Linked DNA regions of Homo sapiens. The protein of the gene in region 2 interacts with the protein of the main gene of each other region in a biochemical or structural test. Each region holds a gene or a part of one and is shown on either strand. Other genes may lie near its edges.

The links.
Region 1: the proteins of SLC4A1AP (region 2) and MFHAS1 form a complex in vitro, tested with the Homo sapiens proteins (one large-scale study listed by BioGRID and IntAct).

The regions. Positions count from the first base shown.
Region 1 is NC_000008.11:8,792,631-8,796,130, reverse strand, and holds part of MFHAS1 (malignant fibrous histiocytoma-amplified sequence 1), read left to right. Parts: intron 1-3,500. UniProt on the Homo sapiens protein: Probable GTP-binding protein. Functions in innate immunity and more specifically the inflammatory response as a regulator of the Toll-like receptor TLR2 and TLR4 signaling pathways.
Region 2 is NC_000002.12:27,673,889-27,677,388, reverse strand, and holds part of SLC4A1AP (kanadaptin), read right to left. Parts: intron 1,858-3,500; coding exon 1,697-1,857; intron 95-1,696; coding exon 25-94; intron 1-24.

The DNA of each region.
Region 1 (3,500 bases), on a different chromosome or scaffold from region 2:
TGGTTTGGGTTTTATGTATGTGTGTTTTTCGTTTTGTTTTGTTTGTATTAAGAACCAAAGAGGCCGCTTTTAAGCTGAGATGAAATGCCTGTTACTTCAAATCCTGAAAAGCAGCAGCCACAGATCTTCTTGGGTCAGATCTCATGATCTGGGTGATGTCAGCACCATGATTTCTCCAGCATAGTATTCATATCCATGCAGCAAACTCGACTCTTTCTTCCTAGCTGGCCACATGGAATTTTTTAATGAAAAAATTATGTATGAATCTAAGCCTGTTTTTAGGGAGCTTGGAAAGTGCGCCTTTGGGAATTGTGACCTGTCATCTCCTCTTGGGAAACTTGCTGTCCGGCTGCATTCCAGGCAGTGTGACAGGCATCCATCTCACCCCTCACATGGCAGCTTCCCTGCCTTTGGTGTGCTCCCTGCAAAGCGAGGGTTCCCAGTGGCATTCTTACTCATTAGCTGCTGCAGTAGAAGTAGAGGGCACTCGGCTCAGTGCCCCGTTTCTCCAAACTGGGAAACTCATTACATAGAACATCCCTAATCTATCCTTGCTGGAAAATATCACCGAACACCCAAGGGAAACTGTTATCTAATGCTCTTGTATTCAGAGTACTATTTAACTATCATGTGCATAGTTTAATTTATCACTGACCCTAAGACATTGTGAATCTTGAAGTGCTTCTTAAATATTAAAATAGGATTACAGAATAACTGTTAAAAGTAATTGCACAATTACTTTTGCACCAACCGAATATTAACCTGAATATCCCCTGTCCTGAACATATCAAACAACGGAAATTTTATTGTTTCTCTTTTAATTTCTTTGAAATTGTACATATTGGTCCCTTTCTTTCAGATACACCTGGGTGAGGATGGATAAGGGGATATTATATGTTTTCTTTTTCTTCTGTCTCTTTTTTTTAATACCCCGCAAGTTCTTAAAGCTCAAGGGGATATTACAGAACCAGCAAGGTATGAAACAGAGGAAACAAAAATTCAATATACTTTGCATTGGCGTAAACTTTCCAGAGCCAAGAGAGACATGAACCTATTGTTTTGCCATAGCCAAGTGCCGTCGAATAGGTGCGATAGAGGTAGGAGTTAAAATATCCATTTGCGCTAGAAACCTTCCTGGCACCAAGCCAGCTTTATCAGTGTTTTCCCATGGGCTTCTTGTACTGCCGCAGAAAGACCACGTTTATACCAACCTGAAAAAAATGTTATCAGCCTCTCTCTCGACAGCGTATTGAACCTGAACGAACAAGCAGCCTAAAGTCATGGGTAAGCGGCGGTACATGGCGCCAGACATCCAAATGCCGAGGAAGCCTCTTTAGGCATTGAACCACTTTTGACCTAGCTATCAGAATCATTTTATTTTGAAAGAGGTTAAAAAAAAAGTCTCATGAAATGGATGACAGCTTTGCAATATAATTCTCAACTCTAAATGAAGGAATGTTCTCTAAGTAGGGAAGTTTCATATTCCTGGCAAGACGTTTCTTGGAAAATTACCATATTTTAGTGCAGCTGCAAGGGGTAAATGATCTCTTGTGTGACTTTATAGAAAAGCACACGTAGATGTGAAGCCTGTGCTCGAGCTGCCCAGTGTTCCCCCACCTTCACCGCCTTAAGCACCCACAGTTTACATCCATGAACACATGGACAAAAACAAACTCATGTGGAGGCCGGGCCAGGCTCCGGGGAAGGTCCCATTCATGGGTGGTTGACAGTGGATTGGAAGCGGGAGATTTGGGGGGATCGGTTAGGATAGCTGGCAAAGAATCTGTGCTTAAGTCAACACAGCTTGGGCCTGAGCCTGAGACTTGGGGTCTCAGCAGGCACTAGACATTGGAAGTCCGGGGCTATTGCACTGGCTTTCAACTCCAGCCGAGGTAACTTAAGCAGGTCACCATAGAGGTCAGGCTTTTTTTTTTCTTTTTTGACAAAGGGTCTCACTCTGTCACCCAGGCTGGAGTGCAGTGGTGCGATCTCAGCTCATTGCAAACTCCACCTCCAGGGTTCAAGTGATTCTTCTGCCTCAGCCTCCTAAGTAGCTAGGACTACAGGCGCACACAACCACACCTAGCTAATTTTTTGTATTTTTTGGTAGAGACGGGGTTTCATCATGTTGGCTGGGCTGGTCTCGAACTCCTGACCTCAAGTGATCCATCTGCCTCAGCCTCCGAAAATGCTGGGATTACAGGCATGAGCCACCGTGCCCAGCCAAGGTCAGGCTTTCTTAATCAGACCTGTTAAGTTAGAATTTCTCAGGGAAGGGACCAGGCATGAGTCACTAAAAAACAGAAGAAGCCACCCAGATGAGTCTAACGTGTGTACACGACTTTCTGATGGTTCAGTTCCAGTCCATGCCTCTAAGGGTGGGTTCCCTGGCCAGTGGGGCCTTAGGACTGCTCTGTGGTCAATACCTGCTCTGCAGCACAAAGGCAAAACTGTCCATGCTGTCTGCTCTCAGCCTCAGCACAGTCCCTCCCACTCTCAGGTAAGGTGAACATATCACTCACTGTTCAAATCAGGAGAGGATTGAGAGTGATGGGACGGCTGTCAGTCATGTTGGGATGATGGGTGCCCTAGAGAAAGCTCCCAGGTAGACCAGAATAATTACCCTAGGTGATTGCTGGCTTTTGTGGGGCTTAGGTGGCTGATCTGGATCTCATGATGGTTTTTAAAAAGACATTCCAAGCTCTTCTTTGGCTGGTTTAGCCCTCTCCTTTATTGGTCAAATCAGAGACTTGTCATTTAACTGCCTGTCTTTGACTAATGGTGCTGCAATGCTTTCTTTATAAAGAAGAAACTGTAGATGACTGTTACCTGATTGGCCTTTTTTAAATGAATTCCAAGCTTTTCTATTTCTTATTTTAAACAATTTGTAGACATTTTATTCCCCCATGGGGAGAGACAGAGAATAAGAAGTAGGTAGTGATATTTTTTTTTTTGTTTTAACAACATGATTTACTCTTATAACTTGTCTCAGTGGATTGGTGGTTGAGGTCTCCACCAGCGTTTCATTGGGAAGAGGTTTCAGGAACAGGATGAAATGCCTCCCCTTCTGCACCTCACCCTCCAGGGAGAAACAGGAGCTGAGTGGCTTCTTCTCCCCCTTGCTGATTATCAGATAGAAATGTGAGTCATTTCCATGCTTTGAATATCTTGAGATGATTTTCAAGGATATCTGCATTTAAGATGAGGTGAACATTCACCTAGTAGCAAATTTGCCTGGGTCGCTCTGAAAAATTCTGGCCTCCTCAAGGATACAGATTGTGACAGATACATTTTTAAAAGCTTTATTGATGTATAATTTCCATACCAGAAAATTCACCTGTGCAATGATTACTAACGTATTTGCAGAGTTGTATTTATACAACCATCACCACAATCTAATTTTAGAACGTTCCTTCACCCCAAAAAGAAATCTCCTGCCTATTTGCAGTTAACTTGTGTCTTATCCAACACCTAGTTCATGCAGTCAGTAAGTTTTTTTT
Region 2 (3,500 bases):
ATAAATATTTGATGAAAAACTTACCTTGGCTTGAGGCTTTCAATCTCTCAGAAATTTCAGAAAGTTCCCTTTCAGCATCATTTAATTTTGCAACCTGTAACACCCAAATCAACAGGGTTACAAAGTTTTTCTTCTTTCAAACTGTTTTTCATCCTCCTGTTTTAATTATTCTTACTAGAAGTTTTAAGAAGATTAATTCAAAAGTCCAGTTAAACTGCTACTTATGGAGTTAACACTTTTTTTTTTGTTTTGAGATAGAGCCTCATTCTGTTGCCAGGGTAGAGTGCAGTGGTGCAATCTCGGCTCTCTGCCACCTCCGACTCCCGGGTTCAAGCGATTCTCCTGCCTCAGCCTCCCAAGTAGCTGGGACTACAGGTGTGCACCACCACACCCAGCTACTTTTTGTATTTTTAGTAGAGACAGGGTTTCACCATGTTGGCCAGGATGGTCTCAATCTCCTGACCTCATGATCAGCCTGCCTCAGCCTCTCAAAGTGCTAGGATTACAGGTGTGAGCCACCACACCTGGCCAGAGTTAATAGTTTTTTTTTTTTTTTTTTGAGATGGAGTCTCGCACTGTCACCCAGGCTGCAGTGCAATGGCGTGATCTCGACTCACTGCAACCTCTGCTTCCTGCATTCAAGCAATTCTCCTGTCTCAGCCTCCAGAGTAGCTAGGACTACAGGCACACACCACCACGCCTGTCTAATTTTTGTATTTTTTTTTTTTTAGTAGAGGTGGGGTTTCACCACATTGGTCAGGTGGGTCTCGAACTCCTGACCTCAGGTGATCCACCGGCCTCAGCCTCCCAATGTGCTGGGATTACAGGCATGAGCCACCATGCCCAGCCAGGAGTTAACACTTTTTATGTGTTAAATCCAAATTTAATTTATTTCTGAATTAAAAAACACAGAATTAAACAGAATGAATAACTCGGACTTCATTTTACTCAGAAGAAAGAGCTCAAGGCATTTGTTTTCACATAAATCAAAAGGATAGATGTTGGGTAATGTTTTAAGCTCTGAATCCTACTATAAATTAATACCTGTAACAAATTCCTTGAAGTGCAATTGCTGAATCAATGCATTTTTAATACTGACAGATGTCGTAGGATTGATCACTTAAAAGGTTGTATTGTACATTCCCACCAATTGAGAGTCTACTTCTCCATATTCTGGTCAAGCTCTGCATTATTAATCTTATGTTTTTTTCTAGTCTAATAGGTAGCCTATTACCTGCCTATTATTGTCTGTTACCTACCCATTAACACGTCACCTTGTGATAATTTCCTGAAGAACATACTGTTTCAGACTACATATTACCATACTACATTCTTCAAAATTCCTTTGACTTCTCTTGACTGCCAGAAGGCTAAAGTCAATTTCACCTCAGAACGCCCTAACTTGGAACTTTTTCCTTTCCTTTTGAGAGAGGTAATATCATATCCAAAGAATGTTAATTAATGGATCAATATCCTGAAGGAAAGGATCTAGCAGCAAGCCATATTTTTTTCAAACAACTTGGATAAGACTAGTTGTCTGTTACCATTAAATTAACAGACCACAAAAGTTATACTTCAGTATCAGATTTCAATGCTACTACTTTAAAAATTATCATAAAACATATTTAAATAATACATTATGTTATTAAAAATTAAACTATTAAATACCACAGCTACTTCCATAAATAAAACTTGCCAATGATTCAAAGGTCTCTGGCTTCTCATCAATCTTGCCAGCCTTCTTCATTCTGTTCAGACGCTTCTTCTCAATCAGGCCAGTCCTATCAAGAAATGTGTCATCATCACTATCATAAAAGTCTTCATCTTCCCAGTTCTTGGCTTTCCTTTTCCGAGATACTAGAGGTAGATAAAATGATGAATAAATAAGTTTTTAAAAAAGAAAAGAAAAAGAAAGAAGGCAAGTAGGCAAGGAGCTTAAAATGTCACCATCAACTACTGAAAGAGAGGTTCTACAAGCTGCCAAACTACGTATAAAAACAAAGGGCTAAACCTTGAAGACATTATACTAAGTGAAATAAGCCATATATAAAAGGACACTTACTGCATCATGTGAGATACCTAAAGTAGTCAAATTCATAGAGACAGAAAAGTAGAATGGTGGTTGCCAGAGGCTGGGAAGGAGGGAGAATGAAGTTAGTGTTTAACAGATACCAATTTCAGTATGGAATGATAAAAAAGTTCCAAAATGAACAGTGTTGATGGTTCCATAATATTGTGAATGTACTTAATGCCACTGAGTGATACTCTTAAAATGCTTAAAATGGTACACTTTTCTGTTATGTATATTTTCCCACAATTTCTTATTAAATAATTTTTCATTAAAGCAAATAGTTAATTTATTTAATGAGCAAACGGCTTTTAAAAATCAATGAGGATGGCCAGGCATGGTAATCCCAGCACTTTGGGAGGCTGAAGGGGGATGGATCGCCTGAGGTCAAGACCAGCCTCACCAACATGGTGAAACCCCGTCTCTACTAAAAATACAAAAATTAGATGGGCATAGTGGCGGGTGCCTGTAATCCCAGCTACTCAGGAGGCTAAGGCAGGAGAATTGCTTGAACCTGGGAGATAGAGGTTGCAGTGAGCCGAGAAAGCGCCACTGCACTCCAGCCTGGGTGACAAGAGTGAAACTCTATCTCAAAAAAAAAAAAAAATCAATGAGGAAAAAAGGAAAATGAAAAATGAGAAAAAGGACAATAACCCAAAAGAAAATTTGAAAAAGGATAATGAAAGCAGTTCACAGAAAAATACAATAAATATTTTTAAATATGTTACTTTAAAAAAAAATAAAGTACAAATTTAAAAATTAGATACTTCTCATCTATTAGACTAGAAAAACATAAAAAGATTAATAATTGGTGGGAATGTACATTGATACAACCTTTTTGATGGTCAAGCCTACAATATCTGCCATTAAAAATGCATTGATCCAGCAATTCCACTTCTAGGAATTTATTCTATAAATATCAATGCAATAGTATTTATAACAGTGAATATGTAAAGAGTCCATCAATAAGAAACTATGACAGCTATTACTTTTTTGTTCACCCTACAACATTCTACTCCCTTTGTTCTGATAAAAGTACCTCTTTCCCCTAGAAAATTCCTCCCCCATTTTATCTGGTTTAGGGATAGTCATAGGACCAAAGCCAAATCAGTAAGACTCTTTCCCTCATATTTATATTTAGAGATGGGGCAAAGAGGCTCTCTTTACAATGAGGTTATTAAAGTGAGAGACTGTTAAGTTCAGGGCTGTAAGCAATCAGCTTTTCAGCACAGGGTAAGAATCTGTCTGCAAAGTTTAAAAATGCACTCGTGAGACAGACTCACTCACAGACACACACACACACACACACACACACACACACACACACACAACTTGTATATGTCCTGGTGATGCTGAGTCTACTTTGGTAGTACTAAGTTATGGTTTCAGAACTTGAGGTTCTGGTTCATGCAGTTGTTCCTTCACTCCTGTT